Homo sapiens: one gene and its partners. The protein of the gene in region 2 interacts with the protein of the main gene of each other region in a pairwise test. Each region holds a gene or a part of one and is shown on either strand. Other genes may lie near its edges. The genes, in order: CHCHD3, CEP72, ATXN7 and MCM10.

The links.
Region 1: the proteins of CEP72 (region 2) and CHCHD3 interact in binary tests that used the Homo sapiens proteins (3 or more experiments, as listed by UniProt).
Region 3: the proteins of CEP72 (region 2) and ATXN7 interact in a two-hybrid assay, tested with the Homo sapiens proteins (one study listed by BioGRID and IntAct).
Region 4: the proteins of CEP72 (region 2) and MCM10 interact in a two-hybrid assay, tested with the Homo sapiens proteins (2 studies listed by BioGRID and IntAct).

What each region holds. Positions count from the first base shown.
Region 1 is NC_000007.14:132,974,067-132,981,099, forward strand, and holds part of CHCHD3 (MICOS complex subunit MIC19), read right to left. Parts: intron 1,221-7,033; coding exon 1,103-1,220; intron 1-1,102. UniProt on the Homo sapiens protein: Component of the MICOS complex, a large protein complex of the mitochondrial inner membrane that plays crucial roles in the maintenance of crista junctions, inner membrane architecture, and formation of contact sites to the outer membrane.
Region 2 is NC_000005.10:608,219-615,354, forward strand, and holds the start of CEP72 (centrosomal protein of 72 kDa), read left to right. Parts: upstream 1-4,121; 5' UTR 4,122-4,143; coding exon 4,144-4,225; exon of another isoform or gene 4,226-4,383; intron 4,384-6,334; exon of another isoform or gene 6,335-6,463; intron 6,464-7,136. UniProt on the Homo sapiens protein: Involved in the recruitment of key centrosomal proteins to the centrosome.
Region 3 is NC_000003.12:63,866,834-63,873,866, forward strand, and holds part of ATXN7 (ataxin-7), read left to right. Parts: intron 1-7; exon of another isoform or gene 8-80; intron 81-7,033. UniProt on the Homo sapiens protein: Acts as a component of the SAGA (aka STAGA) transcription coactivator-HAT complex. Mediates the interaction of SAGA complex with the CRX and is involved in CRX-dependent gene activation.
Region 4 is NC_000010.11:13,206,554-13,211,639, reverse strand, and holds the end of MCM10 (protein MCM10 homolog), read right to left. Parts: intron 2,550-5,086; coding exon 2,507-2,549; intron 2,414-2,506; coding exon 2,330-2,413; 3' UTR 530-2,329; downstream 1-529. UniProt on the Homo sapiens protein: Acts as a replication initiation factor that brings together the MCM2-7 helicase and the DNA polymerase alpha/primase complex in order to initiate DNA replication. Additionally, plays a role in preventing DNA damage during replication.

The DNA of each region.
Region 1 (7,033 bases), on a different chromosome or scaffold from region 2:
ATACAAAAGGCAGAACATTATTCAGCCATTAAAAACTACATTTCAGAAAAATGTTCAGTGACATAGGAAAATGTTCATGAGGCTTAACACCATCTATAGCATTATCTAAATGTTTCAATATGTTAAAAAGCCTAGAAAAAAATAATCTCGAGGAAAACACACACTGGTGTAAACCATGGTTATATCAGAAAGACAGATTGATGGGTGTCTTTTAAACCTTCTTCTGTCTGTTAGTAATACTTTTAAAGACAACAACAAAAACATGTCTATGTAATCTTTTAAAAGATTAAAAAATATTTTCTTTTTAAAAAAATTATCTTAGAAAAGACTGTTCCCCAAGGCCCTGGCTCTACATTTTCTCTTCCCTAAACCCCAGGCAGTGATTGATCAAACCTTACTCACCTTTGCCAGAGTCTTCCAGACTAACATCTGGTAGTTGCCAGCCACGAGAGAAAGAAGCCTACATTGCTGACCCCTGAGGTTTCAAAGACAATAAAACCAAAGGCAAAGGACAAAAAAAGAAGACAGGCCGGGCTCGGTGGCTCACACCTGTAATCCCAGCAGTTTGGGAAGCCGAGGCGGGTGGATCACATGGTCAGGAGTTCAAGACCAGCCTGGCCAAGATAGTGAAACCCCGTCTCTACTATAAATACAAAAATTAGCTGGGCACGATGGCAGGTGCCTATAATCTCAGCTACTCGGGAGGCTGAGGCTGGAGAATCACTTGAACCCCGGAGGCGGAGGTTGCAGTGAGCTGAGATCGCACCACTGCACTCTAGCCTAGGCGACAGAGCAAGACTCCGTCTCAAAAAAAAAAAGGAAAGAAAAAGAAAAAAAAGCAGACAACAATCCTTCAGGTGTGAAACATGTACACATGTCTGCATGTTGGTCTTCAATACTTCCAGAGTTACCTGCCTTTAAAGTCCTTGATGGTTAAACCTAAACTGTAAGCTACTTATAAAAGGCAAAAATCAAAATCTGAGCAAAGAGAACATGAATAATATTATCAACACTAAAAGCTGGCACAGAGTACTTAGCTCTTCCCAAACATCAGAGATTTCCTTGTAGGCAAGAAAATTTCTCCTACATTTTTAATACTCACCAGGTGCTTTGCCTTAGCGCGTTCCTCCTCGCTACATATCCTCTCCCGAAGGATGGCTCTGGTTAACTGCTCATTGGCAGCAGCCCTCTCTCGGTCCAGCTCTTTGGCTTGCTTTAGTCTAAAATGACAAGAATTGTCTAAGTTAGAAAAAATATTTTATTAGTTGACATTATTTTCTATCAAATGAAATAATTTAAAAATAGAAACACATAGCCAAAAAGGTCAACAGCTGAAATCATCTTGGCCCATAATCTATCAAAAAAGCAGGTATAGAGGTAAATCCCCATGCAGCCTCCACTCAAGCATTTCAAATAACCAAATTCAAATACATGAAGAAGCTTATTAATTTGGCTGCCAAATATAACTAAGTTTTACAAAGTTCTTCTTATGTAAAATTAAAATCTGCCCACCAAAAAAATTCCATCCCTGGTGCTTCCATTTGGCCTCTGAAAATTTAAGTAATTAACAAACCATCTAGGCCAGGCGTGGTGGCAGCTCACACCTGTAATCCCAGCACTTTGGGAGACCAAGGCAAGTGGACCACTTGAGGTCAGGAGTTCAAGACCAGCCTGGCCAACATGGTGAAACCCCGTCTCTACTAAAAATACAAAACTTCGCTGGGCGTGGTGATACATTCCTGTAATCCCAGCTACCTGGGAGGCTGAGGCAGGAGAACTGCTTGAGCCTGGGAGGTAGAGGACGCAGTGAGCTGAGATCATGCCACTGCATTCTAGCCTGGGCGAATGAGACTCCGTTTAAAAAAAAAAAAAAAAGCCATCTACATGACAAATATTTGAAGGTAACCATCGTCTCTTTCTCCAAACTTACTCAACTCGTCCATTTACTGAATGCACACCAGGCACTGTGCTAGGCATTGAGGACACAGCGATAAACAAGATGGACAGGTCACTGTCATTGTGGATGTTACAGCACAGCAGAGAAGCCAGACATTATGGAACTAATAAGGACATCTTTCCTCCCAGTATATTACCCCTATTTTCCAACAATCCTCATATGCAAATATGACCACGCCTTTCAACTGCAGGGCTCCTCACTTCTGGAATGACTCCAATCGATCTGTTAGCTCCAAACTAAACCTAACCCTCCAGACATGCTCTAGCAAACTAAGACAGGAGAATCTTACTTCCCTAGATCTGTACACAATACTAATTCTATTAATGAAGCATAAGATTGCATTAGATTTCTCAGTAGCCTCATCACACAATTAGATCATATTAAGTTACAACCCACTAAAACCCCTCATTGTACATGATAAAGATAAATTACTTTGGCACTGATTTTTGCCATAGTGCCTGGCACATAGAGGCATTCAGTAATCACTGAATCACTGAAGATTTCAGTCTAATCTCATGAACAAAGATTTTCTGACTGCCTTTTCTTCTTTGAGAGAATAACCCTACTATACCATCATATCCCTGAAGGTATAGCTATGCTTTAAAAAGGAAAAGTAAAATTGTTATGTTGGTGTAAGTGAAATTCTGAGTGAAATCTACTTTATACGTGTGAATGATGAGCACCAAATTCTACTCAGTACTAGCTTATCAAATTTTAGTTTTAAAAAGATTTTTGAAAAAAACTAGAGATAAAATTTTGTGTTACTATTTTTAAATTGCTACATCATCCTGATACTCTGGAATTCTCAGAAATCAACTACAACAGAAAAAAAAAAGTCACCTTGTGAGATATATTCCAAAGTTATCATCCTTTTCCCCTAAAAATCAAAGCTGTGTAGTTTTGTGTCTTAAATAAAAAAAAAGAGGACTAGAAACAAGTTAAAATCTGTATTTCGAAATTCTCTAATGCAAAAGTAACCTTTGGGAAACTTCCTAAGCAATAAGCACAATGACACTCATACAAACCAAATTTCTCTAAATTATTTCACAAGGACCATACAATAAATTCAGCAACATCAATGATATCAACACATTAACACCACTGGATATGTGTAATTGTAAGAGAACAGCAATAATTAGAAGTCACACCACTTCCTAGAACAGCAGTTCTAAAACTACAGTCCACAAACCAGCTGCAGTAGCATCAGCTGGGAGTCTGTTAGAAATGCAGCTTCTCTGATTCCATCCCACACTTGCTGAATCAGAAACTCTAGGGATAGTGCCTAGCAAACTGTCTTTTCATAAGCCCTCTAGAATTCTGATGCATGCTAAAGTTTAAGACTACAGCCCTTAATTACCAAAATACACTTGTACTCAAATAAATCCTGGAGGTAAATGAAAGTAACATCAAAAATGAAGTGCTCCCCATGAGAATATTGTGCAAATAACTGCTGAGGTTATCATATCAGATTACAATACTGTATTTAACGCATTTGTATGGACATCTTACCCCTAAGTAAAAAAGCATTACCTATTTTTACCAGTGAGGTGGAAACTAAAATAAAATAATAAAATTACTATCATTTATGGATCAACTACTAAGCACTGTGCTAGGCACTTTACAAACATATATAAAATGTTTATTCAAATTCTATTATTAGTTCATGAACATAAAATGAATTCTGTTCAACTGAATTATCACATCTACCACATTTGGTGTATCTAATTTTAAAGTACTGTTTAAAAATTACTACTTTTTTTTTCCATTTTAGTTTACTTATGTATGGCTTAGATTTTAATTACATATGGAGTTCTACATGGTTCAACTTTAAGAAATACAGGATCATAAGGATTTTGGCAAGTTAATGAAAAAGAAGCAAAACATGAGCACAAAAGCCTTCAATGTGATAATAAAAATAAACATATTTAGCTTGCCATGACTGGTACAGATATGCAAACTCTGGGTCCAAATCAAGGCTCTAAACTTCCTATCTGAATAAGTACTTTATTTAATCTCCGGTGAGTCCTGTTATTCTCATGGGTAAAATGAAATAGTGTAATACCTACCTTACAGCGTTCTATATAAACAAGGCACTCAGCACAATGCCCATAACATAATATACACTCAATAAATGTTAGGTAAGTAGCAGTAATAATAATAGTACCCACTATGCGGGTAGGAATACAGAGAAAGCAGTGATTTTACGAAATGAAGAAGACAATCTCCAAATTCACTAACTACAATGCCATCTCCATCATCTTTTCCAATTTTTCACCAATAAATTCTGCTTTATTTTTATGATCTCTAAGGACTTCTAAAATCACAAATTGACTCTACTAACTCCAGCAGCTAGACCCTTTCACAAGCTGCTTCCTTTCCCTCTTGTCCATAGCTCCATAAGGACAACGATTTGCCCTATTTTTGTTCACTGCTATATCCCCCATACTTATAAAAGTGCCTGCCACATATCAAACACGCAAGAAAAAGTTGTTGATGTATGCATGTGTGAATGAATGAATGAATAAATAAATAAATGGCATATTTCTAACCACAAACAAAACAAGGAAAACAAACTGCAAAAGAACACAAGGCGATGGTATATAAGAAACAACTAACGAGACAAACTGTATCCTCCAAGGGCTTAGCCACCATGTTAGATGTGGCACATCTGTGATATAATCCCAGGCTACATTAAATAGCCTACAACAGGAGGTGCCACAACAGTCCAGAGCCCCTCCAACATCAACACCTAACTATATTTGACACCTGGATTGAAAGAGGATTGGCAGTGGTGCAAACTGACTAAAAAGAATATTATTTTCCTTTCTTAATAAATTCTTATACTTTCATTCATCCTTACAAATAGAACTGCACAAATTCTCAAATGTTTTTAAAGGAATGTTTATAAATTTTAAAAAAACTTTTTTTAAGGTCTGTATGGTGACTGTTTAAGAAACCAAATTTTTTGTCATCAGGGAGTTTGGCAGTAGGACTCTGAACAAATTCTCATTTCCTATCAACAACTTAGCTGTACAATCTAATAAGCCTCAGTTTCCTCAGTTTTAAAATTTGAAGGTTGAACTACTATATAATCTTATGGTCCTTTGCATATAAACATTCTAAAAAGTCTATACCTTAAACATATTATTCCTCATTCCATAAAAAATCTTGAAAAAGGTGGTGGCAGGGGATAAATAAAACAGAGGGGCATTATATTATCTCCCAGCTTGATACTGTTATAATTTCTACTCGATGGGCACATATACTTCTACTGTAATCCTGAGATTTCTCACTACAGTACTCAACAAAAACTACACACTGGAATTCATAAATTTATTCAGTATATAATTACTAGGTGAAAGGGACTACTCTGGTTACTGAGAATGAAGTAGTGAGCAAGAGACACAGTCCCTACTTTCATGAGCCATGATTACAAATAACAGATGCATTATTTTTAAAAAGTTAGGTAGGTATCTATGACACTGCATGGGTGGGACTGATATTTAACTTGAGCTCTACAGGACATTAACTGAGCAACATGGGGAAGGAGAAAGTGTCTTAGGCAGAGGAAACATCAGTTGGGTCCAGAAGCACCAAGAAAGGATTTCCTTCAGTTAGATTCCTGTGACACTTAGAAGGGTCTCTGAGGCATGAAATCACCTCTGCAAAGAATTTTACTTGCTTTCAGATTCTCTTGGAGGACAGAGTTTCAATGGTATACTGACTGAGGTTCAGTTTTGACCAGTGCCCAAAGATGAGAAGCTTCTAAGTTGTACCATTTCCCATTTAAAAGCAATAGATTTGAAACTTCAAAATTGTACCATTCTCCATTTCCCCAACCCTCCCCTCCAAAATATTGCATGGCAATTATTTTCTTCTAAGTTTCCTCTTTCAATGGTTCCTGTAAATTCTTTACTGAGCCAAAACCACTTTGCAAAGAAAAACTGCTTATGTTTTCAGAAACCCCCAATTACTTTCAAAGCTTCCTCTCTGGCCCCTTGGTTTTATACCGCATGGAGCTATACTATTCAACAGCCATCTGCAAAAGGTAGATGAGCTGTCAACCAATTTTTCTCTTTTTGAACCAAATAAGACAGCCCTGCCATCTGGGCCTCTCTGAAAACTACTGCCCAGATAGTGGAGCTATAAAATCAGAAGCCATGTTGTTTTGGGAACACTTCACTAAGGAGAGAAGACCCAGGCTCTCACTGACCAAGGGAAGGCAGGACTTTATATGTAAAGGCAGGAGATAAAATAAGTCTCTCATTATTAACTTGGGTTTCCAAAGATTTAAGAATTATCTCAAAACAAAACTAAACATGCCAAGTATCTTAGAGAATACATTCCTTTTTTATTTATTGGCATTTCCCACTTAATATTTTAGATCTCCTGCTCTAATATATTCTACATTAAGTCCCTGATTTAAGTTTCATTTAAATTTCTTTCTTTTAAATACATATCTCTCCTCATTTAAATTCTCTAGAGTTTCAAGCAAAGAAGTAGGAGTTTAGTGTAAACTTTTCTTGTTTGCATTAAGTAATTGGATAGCTTGCCTAAGCTTAATGAAACAAATACCAGTCAGTGCTGCCCTTAGACCTCAAGCCCTAGCAACTTAGCTCTTTCCTCAGTATATTGTCAATCAGGCGAGGGACTTAAGGTACACCAGCAAAATGAATTCCTAAAAGCCAGCCAAATCTCCTATAATAAATATTATTACATGTCCTTTTAAATGGGAAAACAAATTAACTACTTATAAAACATTCAACTTTCATGGACAGCAGGTATAAAATCTAGTTCTCTATATTTTAGTCCCAGGGTAAAAACTAGCCAGTTTGACTTTACTCTAAAGAACCTCAAGTTTTTAAGAAAGTAGAAAGAGAATTTTAAAGATAACTTTAGCAAGGCATTAACATATTGAACTTCATTCACCTCCATAAGGGAGGCATTACTAGCTCTAGTTTTTTTGTTTTTTGTTTTTTTGAAACATGGTCTTGCTCTCTTGCCCAGGCTGGAGTGCAGTGGCATGATCTCGGCTCACTGCAACCTCTGCCTCCCAGGCTCAAGCAATCCTCTTGC
Region 2 (7,136 bases):
TGCTCTGCGTAGCCCTGGCTTGGATGCTGCGAGCCAGGTGGGCCTGGGGTGAGCGCTCGTCCCTGGGGTGGGTGGAGGCCCCCATTTCCCTCTCAAGTCCCCTCACTGTACATCACAGCCTCCTCCCACCCCCGCTCTGTTTAGAGAAAGCCCAGAGGCCCCTCAGGCTGAACCTCCAGCCCTCTTCTCTGACCATGTGGGTCTCCCTGTTTCCTTCCGCTGGCCTGGTCTCTGTAGGGCTCACTGAGCCTGCAGTCTGGGACCCACAGGCTTGAGGATTGAGGCTCGGGGCCTGGGAGCCTCCCTGGGATGTTCTAGAAAGCTATGGATGGGGCACCTGTCAGGGAGACAGCACACGGAGAGCCTCTCCCACCTGGGTCCTACCATAGCGGCCTGGGCCTGTGGGCTTAAAGAGCCGCTCCGGAATTTAACTGGGCCTGAGGGCTGGTGCCCTGTGAGGAACCCGGGATAGAACCTGGGGACAGAGGCCTCCATTAGTCCTTGGGAGCGGCAGGTAGCCCATGGGGTCACTGTGATCCCGGCACATTGTGGGAGCGTGCGCTGGGATGGGGAGGGGTCACTGTGAGCACGGTGCGTCGTGGGAGCGTGCGCTGGGATGGGGAGGGGTCATCGTGATGATGGCACAGCACACTCTCCTGTGGTCTAGGTTTAGGGATGCCAGTGAGACCCGCTGAAGCGTTGGGGCCCTACCCGAGGTGAGGCGTGCCCAGGTCTGGGGACTCCTGTCTTGGGGCCCCTCCCAGGAGAACCACCCCCCTCCTCTGGCAGGAAGCCCCCAAAGCTGTGGAGGAGCCCTGGGCCCACAGACAGCATCCCTGCTGCTGGGGACCCCAGGCCTGTGCGGGTGCCGCTGCCATGGGGCTGATGGGGCCCAGCCCAGCAGCCCCTGCCTTTGCTTTCCCGGCTTCTCTGCGGCTCTGTGCTTTTGCTGCCCCATTCCAGGCCGGAAGGCTCCCGCGCCTCCATGGATCTTCATGATTTGGCCAACCAGAGTGAGCACCGTGAGGAAGTGGAGACAGACACAACTTTCAGCAGCAGAAGACAGGATAATAAAGTTGGGTTTGGTTTATGATCTAACGTGACCATTAAAAGTGTTTAATAAACAACGTTAAAGACTACTTAGTGGCAGATGCATCCGGCAATGCTTAGCATAGCCTCATGACTGTCAATACGCACAGGCTTGAAAAACACCTGCAGGATACATGTGGGCATGTTAGTGTGGGTTATCTCAGCAGGGCGGCATATCGAATCTCGGTGCCCTTCTGTAGTGTCTATATTTTCTACAGTGAAGCTGGGATACTTTGGTGAGCAGAGGCATTGTTTTCAAAGTTCCCATTGGTACTTCCATCACATCCCCGTGTGGTTCTGTCCTGGACCGGCTGCCCACTGAGGTCCCACTCGCCCCTACCCTGCCCTGTCTGGCCAGCTGGGTACCTGCCCAGGAGGAAGAGGCTCAGTGTTTGGGGCCTGTGTTATGCCCTGAAAAGCCACTGCTGTTGGGTGAGGGCCCATGAGGCCTTCAGTTTGCCATCGTCATGTGCTTCTGAAGAGCCAGGATGCTGTCCACTGTTTGTCTCCTGGCGGGACAGAATTCCACTCAGTGCATATCAGGGGCAGTGATGGGGCTGGGGGTGTGAGGGCTCAGCTGTGCCCTGAACTCCTTCACAGTCTTGCAGGAGGGGTCATGGAGCCATATCTGGGTTTGCAATTTTTGGAAAGTTACGTGACGATCTGCACTCAGGAATGCTGAGTGTTCGGCAGGCCCCATGAACAGTGATCAAATGTGACGCTGTGTGTCCCACAGCCTAAGGGCTGTGGCAGAGACCAGGAGGGCCATCAGCTCCCACAGCTTTCGAGTCCACCTCAGGGCTCCTCCTTGCTGACCTCCCTGGGTTGTCAGTGGAGACAGCCACCCTCCCACAGAGCACCTGCCTGAAATGGGCCAGGCCGCCCCTGTGCCCTGGCTCTTGCTGCACATGCTGAGGTCAGCACGGAGGCGCCCTCGGGCACCAGCATGCCCTCGGGTTTGCAGCTTGTCAAATATCCCATGAAGGCAACCTGACCAAATGTGCTCTAACACCACTGGACCAATGGAACGTCTTGGGCTGAACAGATGCAGCCTTGCATCCACCGCCTGCCACCACCCTCTGTGTACACCCCCTGCACACACCTCTGCACACACCCCCCCTGCACACTGTTGCACATACCCCCTGCACACAGCCTGTGTACACTCCCTGCACAGATCCCCTGCACACAACTCCCTCACACATCCTCTGCACAAACCCTGTGTATACCCCCTGCACACACCTCTACACATACCTTCACACACCATGTATACCTCCTGCACACACCTCTGCACACACCTCCTGCACACACCTTGTGTACACTCCCTGCACACTGTTGCACACACCCCCTGCACATAGCCTCTGCACACAGCCTGTGTACACTCCCTGCACAGATCCCCTGCACACACCTCCCACACACATCCTCTGCACAAACCCTGTGTATACCTCCTGCACACACATCTACACACACCTCCTGCACACACCTTGTGTACACCCCCTGCACACTGTTGCACACACCTCCTGCACACACCTCCTGCACACACTGTTGCACACACCCCCACACATAGCCCCTACACACACCTCTGCACATACTGTTGCACACACCCCCACACATAGCTCCTGCACACACCTCCTGCACACACCTCCTGCACACACTGTTGCACACACCCCCACACATAGACCCTGCACACACCTCCTGCACACACTGTTGCACACACCCCTTGCACATACACCCTGTATATACCCCCTGCATACTCCTTATGTACAGCACTGCACATACTCCCTGCAGAGACCCTGTGTGCATCCTCTGCACACACCCCTTCTGTATACTGTCTGCACACACCCCCTACATGTACACCCTCTGCACACTCCTCCTGCATACACCCCATGTACACCTTCTGCACACACTCCCTGAACACATTCTGAGTACACCTCCTGCACACCCCGTGTACAACCTCTGCACACACCCCCTACACACTCCCCTACACACTCCCCTACACCATCCACACACACTCCCTGCACACAGCCCCTGCACACATTCCCCATGTACACCCTCTGTCTGTGTATACCCTCGTCTACTACCACCATACGTACCCCCCACCACTACCCTGCCTTGTCTATCACCCCCCAGGCTGTGACATACCAGGGATGTTGCCAACGAGCTGGTCTAATCTGGGGTGAGGGTTTCTGGGTGCCCCTAGACACCAGGAGAAAGGCGGGGAGGGGACACCCCTGGGGGTCTGGATTCACTCCACCAGGCGCTGGGCCACAGTGGTACGGTGACACAGTAGATGTCTTGAGCAGGATTAAAGTCTTCCCAATAAACAGGCTGAACTCTGTCTTCCTTGAAAGCTCTGTAGAAGGACCTCACAAGGATAAACACAGCGAGACCCTCCAGGGCGCGGTCAGCCACGAGCCACAGTGCTGGGCCTGTGACATCTCTGGAGGTTCTGGGGTGGAGAAGGACCGGCCGTGGGGAGTGACTGGCTGGGGAGAAGCTCAGCTCCCGCCCACCTCTGGGAGGCCCGGGGCTGGACGGGAGGTGCAGCAGACAAGGCTCCGGGCGGGTGCTGGGGTGTCTGGAGGGGTCCCCGCGGGGGGGTCGGGTTGGGTGGGGAGTCTAGGTGAGTCGGGGGTCCCCGGGGGCGCTGGGTTCAGGGTGGGAGCGGAGTGTGGATGGGGCAGGGTCCCCATGCCCACCACCAGCCGCGATTCCACCGCGCCTACTCGGGGTTTCCCCGGGAGGACACCGCGTGTGTCAAGGGCCGGGGCCTAGAAGGCGGCCGCGCCCAGGGAAGCCTTGACAGGGAGCTATCTGGGGCGGGGGCTGGGGTCGCGTGGCCAGTACCTGGGAGAACCGCCATTCAGGAGAACCCCCCGCCAGGCTCTTGGTTCCGCCCACGCAGTCCCGCCCCCTCCCCCAGCCACGCCCCTCGCCCCGCCGCGCAGGCCCCGCCCCGTCCCGCCAGGCTCTCGGTTCTGCCGACGCAGGTCCCGCCCCTCTCGTAGCCTCGCCCCGCCCGCCGCGCAGGCGCCGTCCGAGGGCTCCGTTTGAAACATGGCGCGGGCTGGCCCTCGGCTGGTGCTGAGCGAGGAGGCGGTTCGGGCGAAGAGCGGCTTAGGGCCTCACCGCGACCTGGGTGCGCCGGAGGGCGGGCGGGGGTGCAAGCGTGAGGTGGCGGGGGGGTGGGTGCCGAGCTTCCCGGGGCGGCGGCGGACCGTGGGCAGGCGGGACCCGTCTACGCAGGCGCCGCGGGCGTCCGGAACGGTCGCGGGCGAGCGGGGCGCGCGTGTCCAGGTGAGCGACCCACCCCCCGTGCCCAGGTGCGGCCCCTGCCCGCGTTCGGGTCCCGGCGTCCCGGCCCCTGCCTGTCTATCGGGTCACTGGTTCCGTGACTGGGGGTTACATCCGCTGAGAAGAGGGAGCCGGCCTTGCTGTCCAGGAGCGCAGCCCGCCCTCCCGCTGGGGATCACCTCCCTGGTTCTCCTGGGCCCACTCTGTGGTGATTGTTGCGCTCGGCCTTCTTGAGGATGTTGGTGGCCGGTTTCCTTCTTTTTGGCTTATTTTTGTCTGGTTTTGGCGTCAAGGTGAAGCCGAGCTCATAAACTGCTGAGAAGTGTTGCCTTCTCTTATATTTAGAAGAGGTTCTGTAGAGTGTGTGCTCATTGTTTGAATGTTTCCTGGAATTTTCCAGTGAAACCATATGGACATGTCAATTTCTGTTTTTGAAGCTTTTAAATGACAAATTCTGTATCTCTGGTTGTTAGAGAACCGTTCATATTAGTTCACCGCGAGTCTTGGCTGTGTGGGGTTTTGTGGCATTGGCTTATTTGAGCTAACTTGTGGAGTGTGTGTGTTGAGTTGTTTCTGGTGTTCTGTTGTTAGCCTGTTAATGTCTGTGTGTGGTCTGCAGGTGTTACTGGACCAACAGGTTCAGTCAGGTGCTGTGGGGGCCACAGGCCAATACACTGAGACAGTGGGGTTTGCAGCAGAGAAAGAGTTTAAGGCTGGCAGGGGCCCAGCAGGGAGGTGGAAGGAGGCCTCAATCCATCTCCCCAAGGAGATCTGAGCGGTTTTTTTTTTTTAGACGGAGTCTCACTCTGTCGTCCAGGTTGGAGTGCAGTGGCACAATCTCAGCTCACTGCAACCTCCACCTCCCAGGTTCAAGTGATTCACTCAGCCTCCTGAGTAGCTGGGATTACAAGCACGCGCCACCATGCCCGGCTAATTTTTTATATTTTTAGTAGAGACGGGGTTTCACCATGTTGGCCAGGCTGGTCTTGAACTCCTGATCTCAGGTGATCCACCTGCCTTGGCCTCCCAAAGTGCTGGGATTACAGGCATGAGCCACCTACACCCAGCCTGAGCTGGGGGTTTTAGAGGAACAGGACTGTGAGGAGCTGGAAGATTGGTGTTGTCAGTTGGTGGAGGTAAGGGCCATGGAATTATCAGGGTGTGGAAACTGCATTCTTTGGTGAATCCGCTTGCGGGGCCCTTTAGACCAGCTGGCATCAGTCCCCAGGTCCTGAAAGAATATCTCAAATGGAAAACTTAACGGTTTATAATGTCCAGGTTATTATCTGTAGAGTGGTTAAGGGGAACTGTAACCTCGTGACAAAATCCAAGTGATCCTGAGGCAGTAGGCACCACAGGGCTCTGAGGAAGCAGGTGAGAGGGCAGCTGACCTCGGGACATGCCGAGTCCTCCCTTCTTCCCTGATTAGTGCTACAAGGTTTACAGGGATATCCCTTTTCTGTTCCTGATGTTGATAATCTGTGTATTCTTTCTTTTTTAGTCTTGCTAGAGGCTTGTGAATGTTATTGATAGTTTCAAAGAACCGACTTTGGGTTTGATTTTTCTCCAGTGTTTTTCTAGTTTCAAATTTCATTGATTTCTGCTTTTTTTTATTTCCTTCTTTCTGCTTGCTTTGCATTTATTTTATACTTTTCTAAATCCTTGAGGCAAAACTGTAGATTATTGATTTGAGACTTTCCTATTTTCTATTATAAACAGTGCCACAAGTTTCCCTGTAAGCACTGCTTTAGCTGTATCCACAAATTTTGTTATGTTGTATTTTAATTTTCATCCAGTTCAGCGTATTTTAAGAATTTCCCTCGATACTTCCTGTTTGACCTGTGAATTTTTTTTTTTTTTTTTTTTTTGAGGTGGAGTCTCGCTCTGTCACCCAGGCTGGAGTGCAGTGACGCAATCTTGGCTCATTGAAAGCTCTGCCTCCTGGGTTCATGCCATTCTCCTGCCTCAGCCTCCCGAGTAGCTGGAACTCCTGACCTCATGATCCGCCCACCTCGGCCTCCCAAAGTGCTGGGATTACAGGCATGATCCACCGCGCCCGGCCTGACCTGTGGATTTTTAAGGAGTATGTTTTTAACGTTCCATGTGTGGATATTTTCCTGTTATTTTTCTGTGTGATTCCATTATGGCCAGAACATAATCTGTATGATTTTAATTCTTTTAAATTTGTCAGGGTTTGTTTTATGATCCAGCATCTGGTCTATGTTGTTGAATGTTCCAGGTGCACTTGAGTGTGTGTGTATTCTGTTGTTGAGTGGAGTGTTATGTAAATACATAAATATCAATTAGATCCTGTTGGTTGGTGATATTGTTCAGTTCTTCTGTATCCTTGCTGATTTTCTGTCTAGTGACTCTATTAATGACTGAGAGAGGGGTCTGGAACCCTTAACTGTAATTGTGGATTTGTCTGTTTTTTTTTTCACTTTGTATGTTTTGAAGCTCTGTTTGTTGAATTACATAGCTAGGATTTTTATACCTTCTTAGTGGACTGACCCTTTTAGTATATGTAGTCTTCCTCTTTTTTTTTTTTTTTTTTGAGACAGAGTTTCCTTCTTGTCCCCCAGGCTGGAGTGCAGTGGCACGATCTTGGGTCACTGCAACCTCTGCCTCCCGGGTTCACATGATTCCTCTGCTTCAGCTTCCCGAGTAGCTGGGATTACAGGCGCCTGCCATCACGCCTGCCTAATTTTTGTATTTTTAGTAGAGACGGGGTTTCACCATGTTGGCCAGGCTAGTCT
Region 3 (7,033 bases), on a different chromosome or scaffold from region 2:
TTTCAAGACAGATCTTTATGGGCAGAAACACAGAAATGGAAGTAGCAGATTTTAAGAAAACTGATTCAGACTTTGAACTTGTATGACCTTATATTTATTGATTTATTTGAGTCATAAGATTTCTGGGTTTTTTTTTTTTTGAGAATATGAAAGACTAGTTAAGAAAATTTGTGTGTTTATTTGATATTTGCTTTCTGAAAATATAAAAAATTATGAGAGAGCTAGCTATATATGGTCTTTATTCTGGGTCTGTGAAATAATGTAAGGAATTTTGTACTATGCTTTTAGAGCAAGAGTTATCCTGGGGGTCTGTGACCCTCCAAGGGTTGGTTTCAAGGGATTCCTGAACTCCCTGTAGTTGTGACCAGAACTTTTTGTGTATGTGTATTTTTCTGGAAGAGGGTCTGTAGTTGTTTTAGAAAAGAGATCCAGGACTTAAAAAAATTAGAGACACATCTTTTTATTGAATAAAATGGAAGTTAGAATTCTTTTCTTTTCTTTCTTCTTTTTTCCTTTTTCTTTTGAAACAGGGTCTCACTTTGTTGCCCAGTCTGGAATGCAATTGCATGAAACTGGCTCACTGCATCCTTGACCTCCTGGGCTCAAGTGATCCTCCTGCCACAGCCTCCCAGAGTGCTGGGATTACAGTCATGAGCCATCACAGAATGACCATTCTAAAGAGAAAAAAACATTTTTGAAAAGTAGATCTGTGTGCTCGTTACTTGCCTTTTAAAGTTATCTTCAGGCTGGGCACAGTGGCTTATGCCTGTAATCCCAGCACTTTGAGAGGCCAAGGCGGGTGGATCATTTGAGGTAGGCCGAGGCGGGTGGATCATTTGAGGTCAGAAATTCAAGAGCAGCCTGGCCAACATGGTGAAACCCCATCTCTACCAAAAATACAAAAAAAATTATCTAGGCGTGGTGGTGTGGCCTGTAATCCCAGCTACTCAGGAGGCTGAGGCAGGAGAATCACTTGAACCCAGGAGGCTGAGGTTGCAGTGAGCCGAGATCACTACACTCTAGCCTGGGCAACAGAGTAAGACACTGAAATAAATAAATAAATAACAAACAAATAAATAAATAAAGTTGTCTTCAGACTTAGAGGTGTAAAAGCACTTCCATTTTATTCCCACAACAAAGCATTGCCTATCAGTTGATAAGCCAAGCTGGTCTGACGTGCTAGTCCTGCATGTACTGTGGCTGTGTTTTTAAAAAATTATATCTAAAAATTCAGACCAGATCGTTTGATGGTAGATAAGCAAAGATTTGATCTTGACACCAGCCGTTGGAGTAAATGGGTCTTTCAGCTCCACTCTCTTCTCTCCAGAAAATTTGAAATTTGACTCAAAGGGAATCATTGTAAGAAAATGTGTTTGTGCCTTGGCAGGACAGTAGAACATGATGGGAAAAACACAGTTTGAGTCAAAATAGACTTAAAATTCAAATTTGGTTTCCTTTATTCACTGTAGCTACTTACCCTGCTTGACTCTTCAGTTACTCATCTGGATATGGCTAACTAGTAGAGTTGTTGGGAGGCTAGCTAGAAGTTTCCCGTATAAAAGTCTTAGCTCCTCTTTGGCCCGCAAGAAGGACTTACAAGCCAGGTTTGGGGAACCATTAATAAACATCTGAGGAAACATGTATATTCATGGTATAGGATAATAAGTACATTATTTCCAAATTGGTGTGATGAAGATATTAACACTTAAAACATTGTTTTTTAAGAAAAAGATTTTCAAAAATGAGTTAGGATTGAGTGGTCCCCAAATATAGATATTTAGAGGAAAGTGGAAAATGATGGTTTATTTGGCAGAGGGGAGGACATGGATGCTGCTGGGCAGGAAGAAATGATAGCCACCCACCAGCATTATATTTCTCTCTGTGGGCAAGATTCCATTTAACATTTTCTCTTCACTTATAATCTGAATTAAAAAACTAAAATACTGCACATGTACTTTATAGTCCATCACCCCTAAAAGTGCTTCAGCACTCCTTTCGTTTTGAGACCTTCACAGGTAACCCAGGGACTTCATGGGTGGAAGTTACACTTATAACTTTAGTTGTCTAATTCTGCTGTCTTTAAAATGCCTTCACAGTTGGGTACCTGTGTTGATTTTTGTCAATAGGAAAGGGTCTGGCAGGACTGAATCATATTTTACTTTAAATGCTGAAGTAAGAGAGGGCATTATGAGTCAAAAGAAAGTGTGAGATACGTAAATAAAATACTGTATAATGCTTATGGCCATAAAAATAAACTTGCTTCTACTATTTCTATAGTCTTAACCTTTCCTGTCATTTATTCGTGGTGATCATTTATGCTTTCTGCCCTTGGGTTGGGAAATGGTTATGAACACAGCCTTTAGGCTTTGAATATGGCCTTGATTCTCATTTCCTGAGCTCTCTGGTTGTGTTCAACTTGGTCCAGTCTCCTTCTTTGAGTCTAGAGGAGATGACCATTAAATGGGATAATAAATGCAAAAAAGTTTTGCTTACTCCTAGGCTCCTAGTAAGTACTCAGAAAGTGGTAGCCATTTTGAAGACAGTTACATTCTCATCTTTAGAAGGAGATATCATACATCTTTTTCTTTTCTTTTCTTTTTGTTTTTTTTTGAGACAGAGGCTCATTGTTGCCAAGGCTGGAGTGCAGTGGCATGATCTTGGCTCACTGCAACTCCTGCCTCCCAGGGTTCAAGCTATTCTCGTGCCTCAGCCTCCCTAGTAGCTGGGATTACAGGCATGTGCCACTACGCCCAGCTCATTTTTGTATTTTTAGTAGAGATGGGGTTTCGCCATGCTGGCCAGGCTGATCCTGAGCTCCTGACCTCAGGTGATCCACCTGCCTCGGCCTCCCAAAGTGCTGGGATTACAGCTGTGAGCTACCGCACCCTGCTAGAGATACTATACATCCTTTTAAAGAGAATACCTTTATTCATCCTTATTCCCACTTAGACCTTCTGGAACCATCTTACTTTCAACTCAGAAAAGCCTTTTACATTTTCTTGTTATGATAGGCAGGTATCCCAACATCTTGATGACCTATTGGACTTCTCCATTGTTCTTAGCCAATGGGGTTGCATTCTCTATTGGCCTGGCAGGTTATATCAAAATCTTGGATATGTCAGGGGCCAAACCAACAAGCCTGCACAGGTTTGGAGCTGTGATCCATCAAACAACTGTGTGATTTTATAGCCTGGAACAGAGATCAGCAAATTTTCTGTAAAGGACCATATAGTAAATATTGTTTACTTTGCCAGCCATCCAGGTCTCTACACCTACTCAGCTCTGCCATGATAGCAGGAAAACACTCATAGATATAAATGAATGGGTATGACTGTGTTCCAAGAAATGTTGATGAACACTGACATTTGAATTTCATGCAATTTTTATGTGTCACGTCATATTTTATTTTTTCAACCATTTAAAAATGTGAAAGTCATTCTTAGCTCCTGTTATATACAAATCTTAGCTAGATTTGGTCCATGGGCCATAATTTGCAGAATCCTTGCCTAGAATATTAGATGCATAGATTTGTGGCATTGCCAAGCAACCACCCCCAACATGTGCACACACACGTATGTGTGTGTGTGCTCACACACTGCTGTTTTATTTAGCATACTCTGCTTTTGGTATGGCAGTTTGATCTAATGCCTCATCTCTTTGGATAGGATGAAACTTCAGTCAATAAGTTTTTATTAGTCATATTGTGTGGCCGCCTTAGCACATGCATGATTCTGTCACCAATTAATTTTATTTATTGTTAAGTGTTCTCACCTTGCCCATTTTTTTATAGAGCTTGATGATTGGACCCTCTCAGATGTGATGGTTTTTGAAGGGAATCAGTGCTTTTGGAGCTGTCTTTTGCTTAATGTTCCTATTAATCCTTCTTTGCCGTGGAAGGGAAGTAATTAATACTGGCCTCTCAAGCTGCTAACTAGACATTCTTTCCTAAAGGAAATCTGTATCCTGGCCTTCCCTATTCCCTTTCTGCATGATATGTTTGGCTTTATAAAGCACACAAAAATTCCTCTTGTGTTCTAACCCCTGGAGATTAGCTCTAGGATTGGTGTGTACAGAGCATGTAGATATATATGTCTGTGTGTAATTTCATCCGGCCATCACTGAAGCTCTGAGGGCTGCTTCTTTTAGTTTCACCTTTTCACTCCCTCTACCTTTCTCTCCTGGCCATTGTGTAAGGATGCAGATTTGGTGACCTGATAACTGCTCTAACTGATTGGTTTATTTTTTGCTTCGTTTCCTGCTTTTCAACATTCTCTACTGATTTGCTTATTTTGCAGCAAGTACACTCTTTTTGGAGTTTACCTTTTCAAAACAACATTGTGCTGAAAATAAAACCACTAGAGATTATTTGGGTATTGTAGGATTTTTCCCCCTCCAAATGTACAGTAAATACAGTATAAGAGGCATGACTCAGTATTTTAGATATAGAATGCAATTTAAAAAATTGTTTGCCATTTTATATATAGATATTAGAGGTGTAAAATGTGTTCTTACTTTTAGCATTTAAGGGTTTCCTTCTTGTTAAAAAAAGTAAATTTGCTACGTATCTTTTGGATAACAGTTTGGGCAATATGAACCCAAAGTCATTACAAAAAAAGAAAAAAAGGTAAATTCACATCTAGGAATTTAAAGAAACAGTTGGTGAAGTATGCACAGATGTATGTACCAGATTGCTCACCTGTCCTTTTTTTATAACAAAACATAGAAAGTGATCTAAATACCTATGGATAGGGGATTAAGTGAATTAGGGCCTATCCATGTAGTGGAATATGCTGCAATCTTTAAAAAGAATGATGCAGTCAATATTTATTCATAGAAAAAAAGGTATATAATGAGACTATGTATAAGATGGAACTTTTAGAATAGGGTTTTAGTCATCTTTGAAGTATATGGAAGAAAATGCCAGGAGCAAGAATTGTTACAGGGGAGAATCTGTTTTAATTATTAAATTATAATCTAAAACTATAATTTTGATTATTAAACATTATTATAATCTGGTTTGTTTTTAAATTTAAAAAAAAAACAGATTATAATTTAATGCTTTAATTATCAATTAAATTGTTCCTTTTTTTTCCTTAGCCAGTTACCTTCAAATTCAACTCACCTTTATTTGCACCTGCATCTTTGTGGTTTAACTATGATAATTTTAGCAAATTTTCACTTCAGTTATTTTGGCTTTGGAGTATGTTCTATCTCCTATGCCCCACATTCTGGTGGAGATACAGTTCATTGTTTATATGAAATTAGCAACATTGATCTAGCCTTGACGAATGAGAAACGTAACCACATCTGGCTGTGACATAGTGACTCTTTGTGGACTTTGGGCCTTAGAGTTTGTTATAGGAAACTTTAGGACGTGAATACACTATAAAATATAGAAATATTACGATAATTCATGAAGCATGTCTGTCAGTTATCTATTGTTAACAACCCATTCCAAAAGTTTGTGGCTTAAAACACATACCATTTTATTTGCTCATAATTAGGGCAGAGCAGTTCTCCATTGGTAGTGCCTGGCCTGAGGTCACTAATGTGGCTGCAGTCCTCTTAAGTCTTGAGTCAGAACTAGTTAGTCAAGCTGGGCTATCTCTCTGAGCTCCACATAATCTCATCTTCTAGCAGCCTAGATCAAATTTCCTCAGGTGGAGGCACTTTGTTCCAGGAGGGTGAGAACTGCAAGGTTTCTGGAGGCTTAAGCTTAAGAGTCACACAGTACCACTCTGCCATATTCTGCTAGTCAAAGCAAGTCACAAGGCCAACTCAAATTTTAGGAGTTGGACAAAGATACCCCCTCTTGATGGCAAATGCTGCCAAGTCATATTGCACAGGATAGCCTACAGGGAATTGTTGCAGCCATCAACATATGTGCCAACCTGCTTTTGTTATAGTAACTAAACTCTGTTTGTTTGCCATGATTGATAAAACTCTGTTCTGAGGAACAGTGCTAAATGGTTTCCTGTGTTACCTCTTGGGATAACAGCTCTACATGTAGGTAGTATTATCCCATTTTAAAGGTATGAAAAGTGAGCCTTAGAAAGGTTAAGTAACCTGCCCTAGAGCTTTTATCTAGTTAGGGACAGATCTTAAAAGTTAAGGAAAATTTATGTCTATACCAGTGTTTCTTAATCCCATCACTAAAGAACTTGCATGGGGGAGGGAGAGAGGAAGGGTGGGAAGTGGGAGGAAGCGTAGTTTTTAAAATCTCAAAATCCATTATCTTAAAATTTTACATGAATTTTGTATTCTACTCTATAATATATCCCTTTTCAATGTGAAATTCATGGTTTAATTACTTGCCAATCAAATTAAATTTTATCCCCCCAATTTTTAAGAAAATGCAATTCTTCTAGACACAGTATAACAGCTAATCAGCCAGAGATCTTTGGTTGTAAGCAGTAAGAACTAAATCTGACTACTTTAAACATAAAGAGATTACTGGAGGGATGTGGTGACAACAATGCCAAAGAATCAGGCTTCAGAGTGAACCAGATCTAGAGCAGCTTCAGGGATCCAGGTAGCAGGACTCAGTAGACAGTCTTCTCAGGATACAGGAGGGCCAACCTCTCCAGCAGTTTTTAATCCCACTTTCTACTGAGAGTATATCTTTCAGGCCCATACTGGGTCCCAGCAGGTGCCTTGGTTATTGCCTCACTCAGCCAGTACCCTTTAGGGGAGTTGTCATTCCCCAGAAGTGGGAATTGATGGAGGGCAGGTAAAACCAACAGATATTTACTATCTGAACATTTGTGGGCCACTATGAGTGGACTTGGTTTAGACATTGTATCACATATAAGCGACACCATAATGATCCCTGGTTCACCCGTCTCCTTCCCAACCCTACATCTAAGGGTTTTGTTTTGTTTTGTGTTTGAAACAAGCTGTCCTTCTGTCACCTAGGCTGGAGCGCAGTGGCACAATCGTGGCTTACTGCAGCGTTGACCTCCTGGCCTCAAGCAGTCCTCCCACTGCAGCTTCTCAAGAAGCCGGGGATACAGGTGTGTGCCACCAAACCTGG
Region 4 (5,086 bases), on a different chromosome or scaffold from region 2:
ATTACACATTTAATCCCTACGCTACCAATGACAGGTTAAGAAAAATAAAACACATATGTTGGATTTGCATGAAAGCATTTCATAAAGGTTGATAAGGAAGGTAGGATTAGGCTGGGCACAGTGGCTCATGCCTGTAATCCCAGCACTTTGGGAGGCTGAGGCAGGTGGATCACTTGAGGCCAGGAGTTTGAGACCAGCCTGGGCAACATGGTGAAACCCCTTCTCTACTAAAAATACAAAAATTAGCCAGGCACGGTGGCGCCCACCTGTAATCCCAGCTGCTCGGGAGGCTGAAGTGGGAGGATTGCTTGAGCCCACGAGGTGGAGGTTGCAGTGAGCCAAGATTGCGCCACTGCACTCCAGCCTGGGTGACAGAGCAAGACTCTGTCTCAAAAAAATAAGTAAAATAAAATAACAAGTTTCCCTACCCCACCCCTACCGACCGCGTCTCATCCCCAAATATGCTAAGAAAGCACATGCACAGAGCACCTCAAAGCAAAGTCCCCCAAGATTGAGCAAAACTAAGAAGTGACAATTATGTTTTAAATTTATTTTAAAAGTTAAAATCAAATTGTAAAAAGGCATCCAGATACAGCTCACCCTCAGCCTTTACAAGCATATTATACAACTTATATAACAATATACACGTGAATACTGACTGCAATGATACCCTCTGTTCAAACAAGAACATTGTTTTTCCCATAAGAAAGGGATTGCTCAGACACCAACCTGGTGTTCAAGTTCTGTTGTGACCTATTTCATACACATAGCTGTTTTAAGTTAATGAGATAAATAAATCTACCCTAAATGAGCCATTAAAAACATCAGTTTCAAGTGCTTTCTGGTTCTTATTAATAAATACTTTATTCTTTTCTTTGTTAGAAAAAATTAAAAAGAAAAGCAACCTTCTATAAAGTAGAAGTATACTCCTAAAAGAATAGTTATTAGGACATAACCTTAGGAGGAACACAAGTTAGATACAGCACCTTCCACCCAATTAGAGCAGAATTTTATGAAATCTAAGGCATGTAAATTTTATTTCTAGCTTTTGAAAACCTAAATCAACCATCTCCCACAACAACCTCCCAAAAGTGTTATGTCCCTAACATAATAACATCTTAGGGGAAACCTAAATTACTTTTAGCTACAGCTCAAGCTTCAATACAATAATTCAACCAATTTACCCAATCTTTAGCTAGTATCAACATTCACTTAGGTCAAATGATATTTGGAAAACCAGGTTGCCCAGATGGAAGAATCTCCTGAATGAAACCTTTGCTGTGGTAATTTGCATAGGGGTTGACCTTTCATTTTTTTTTTTTTTTTGGAAACAGAGGTGGGTGGATTGCTAGTGCTCAGGAGTTTGAGACCAGCCTGAGCAACATGGCAAAACCCCATCTCTACAAAAAATGCAAAAATTAGCTGGGCTTGGTCACGCACGCCTGTAGTCCTAGCTATTTGGGAGACTGAGGTGGGAGGACTGCTTGAGCCCAGGGAAGCCAAGGCTGCAGTGTGCCGCGATCGCACTACTGCACTCCAGCCAGGGTGACATAGTGAGACCCTGTCATAAAAAATAAAAAAATTAAAAAAAAAATAATATGAGATTTTACATATTTCTATCACAGGGCTCCACAATAATGTAAGAGCAGACACCTTCTTTCTCTCTATATATATAAACTGAAATGCAAAGTGATTCAGTGGCTTGATCAATTTCAAAGAGTAAAACAGAGATAACAGAATTGAATGAAGAAATCTGGCTTTTAATGTCCGTACATCAAGACTATGTGATCATCATTATCTAGATGGGAAAGTTTTATTATTTGTAGAAATCCAGTGCTAAAAAATACATTTCAGGATCACTTAGTCCAATCTTCCTGATTTTACAGATGAGAAAACTGAAGCCCAGAAGTTAAGCTACTTACCTGGAGTGAGAATTAAGCCAAATTCTTTTGCCTCTGGGTGTTCGTATAAACACTAGAATTTTGTTATGATAAAGAAGTGAACACTCTATAACCAAAAGATACAGAAACATAGCTCTCTGTTTACCTTCCAATTTTTGGGCAAAAACTTCAGTGAATGAAGTAATGCAATCATCCACACTGAGCTTAGAAAAGACAATGATAACTTGGTTTTCCACTTAAATGTCAATGTTAAATGTGGTATCAAACCAACCCAATGGCAGAAAGTAAGCAGGCAAAGCTTATGGGCTTAACAAGCATTTGTTTTTGACGGCGTCAATCAGGAATCAATGGACAATACACAGCCAATCCTTTGCTTTCCAGAGTCACAGGAGGCCAGGAAGTCTGTGGGAAAATGTCTGAAGTTCGGGTTATTTAAGGCTGTTCAGAAATTTAGCATGTTCTTCTCCTCTTGGTAACAGAGTTTCTCCTCCTATCTTTGGACCAGTCTTTTCCTAGAAAAATGAAAATATTTTAATAGGAGATGGTTCCACATTATTAGCATGGGTCACTAAAAGGAGTCAAAAATTAGTACGCAAATGGCATACCTTTAGCATTCCGTCCCGTTCCCATTTGTAGAGGCCACAGTTACTGAAACAGAACAGATGGATTTACTCAGCAGGGTGGTGTAGGCCCACTCATGTAAAGACGACGGTGCTCACTGCACCTGGGGAGAGTAGGCCCCCATTCAAGGAGAAGCTGTTCAAGGTGACATTCGTATTGTATGCCAAATCTGAGGTTATGCTCAAATGCGACAAAAATAAACCTGCAATGACTTGGGAAGTGGTCTGTAGGTCCTTACAAAGCTAGAGGCTTCAGAGATGGAGCTTCAAATGATAATGATGGCACCACAGGGATCCACGCACTGCAGGTAATGAATGCACCCTTGGTTTTTACAAATGATGGTGGTTGGGATGAGACTCAGATTTAAGGAGCTGGCCCTCTGGTGCAGGATAATCTATGTTTGGCCCCTTCCTCCTCTTTTTTTTGGAGCAAAAAGGTTGAGCTAAGAAAGGAATAATCTTCTTTCTAGTCTGGATCATCCTTCTCCCTTTCTCTTTATAACCCAAAAGCCTTTACTCACTTTCTTTTCTTTTCCTTTTTTTTTTTTTTTTGGAGAGATGGGATTTTGCTATGTTGCCCACGCTGGCCTCAAACTCCTGGGCACAAGTGATCTGCCTGCCTCAGCCTCCCAAAGTGCTGGGATTACGGGCGTGAGCCACTGTGCCCAGCCTCTTTACTCTCTTTTTATTCAAAGGGCCCAGGGACTCTTGTTTTGTTTTTATTTTTTTTTAGAGACAGGGTTCACTCTGTGGCCCAGGCTGGAGTGCAGTAGTGCGATCACAGCTCACTGCAGCAGCCTTGATCTTCAGGGATCAAGTGATCCTCCTGCCTCAGCCTCTTGAGTAGCTGGGACCAAAGGTGTACACCACCATGCCCAGCTCATTTTTAAATTTCTGTAGAGATGGGGAGTCTCACTATGTTGCCCAGGCTGGTCTTGAACTCCTGGGCTCAAGTGTTCCATCTGCCTCAGCCTCCCAAACTGCTGGAATTACAGGCATGAGCCACCAAGTCCAGCCCTTCTTGCTCTAGTTTTTAAAATGGTGGGTGACTTCCACCCTGAGAAGGGATGTGAACACTATGGTGAAAACTTATTTCCTATGAAGTTTACTCTGGGAAAAAGAGAGAGAAAGAGAGAAGACATATAATAAAGCTAAGGAAGTATGTCTGCCTGCTTACTTGGATTTCAGAGGGTTGGGGTGGGGTGGGGATGCTCTGCCTGTCTCCCCTTCCCCTTACCTAGCTTAGAGTCTACTCGTTCTCATTAGTCTGTTCTCATGCTGCTAGTAAAGACATACCCAAGACTGGGTAATTTATAAAGGAAAGAAGTTTAATGGACTCAGTTCCACATGGCTGGGGAGGCCTCACAATCATGGTGGAAGACGAAGGAAGAGCAAAGGCATGTCTTACATGGCGGCAGGCAAGACAGTGTGTGCAGGGAACTCTCCTTTATAAAACCATCAGATCTCATGAGACTTATTTGTTTTCATGAGAACAGCCCGGGAAAGACCTGCCCCATGATTCAATTACCTCCCACTGAGTCCCTCTCTCAACTTGTGGGAATTATGGGAGCTACCATTCAAGATGAGATCTGGGTGGGGACACAGCCAAACCATATCACAATTTCTGCCCTGAAAGGTGGCACGCCAGTGGCCTTAGCCCTTACAACCTCCCAACCATCACCTTCCACCTCTAGAGACTGGTTCAGTATCAATGAAGAGAACTCTGGTAGCCTATATGTCGATCAATGATAAAATTGTGAGAAAAAAAAAATCACTATTCTAGTTAGGAGTCAGCAAACTACAACCCCAATCCAGCACATCACCAGTTTTTATAAATAAAGTTTTATTTGAACACAGCCGTGCCCAGTTGCCTGTGTATTATCTATGGTTGCTTTCAGGCTGCACCAGCAGAGCCGTGTGGTTGTGACAGATCATCTGGCCCACAAAGCCTAATATATTCACCACTGACATTTTACAGGCAATGTGTGCTGCCTTCTGTTCTAGATCAAGAACTAGCCAAGCATGGTGGCTCAGGCCTGCAATCCCAGCACTTTGGGCAGCTGAGCCCACTTGAGCCCAGGAGTTTGAAACCAGCCTGGACAACATAGTGAGACCTTGTCTCTATAAAAAAAAGTAAATTAAAAAAATTAGCTGGGTGTAGTGGTGCACACCTGTAGTCCCAGCTACTCAGGAGGCAGAAGCAGAAGGATCGCTTGAGCCCATGAGTTCAAGGCTGCAATGGGCTATGATCATGGCACTGCACTCCTGCCTGGATGACAGAGTGAGACCCTGTCTCAAAAAAAGAAGGAAAAAAAAAAAAGCAACTGACAAAAAGTCCAGAAAAAACATGGTTCTTACAATCACAGTGCCATCTGGAGGCTGAAAGGCATCATGCCCTTCCATTTGTGCCCTGTACTTAATAAACAGAATTTTTTTTAATTTTTCTAACGTTTTCCATAAGCTCTTGCTATAATGACATTTTTAGTCATCTAGTTTGGAAAAAAGTCAAGTATCAATATATAAATAACTACTTAAAAATTATAATCTAGATTGTGAAAAATTGGC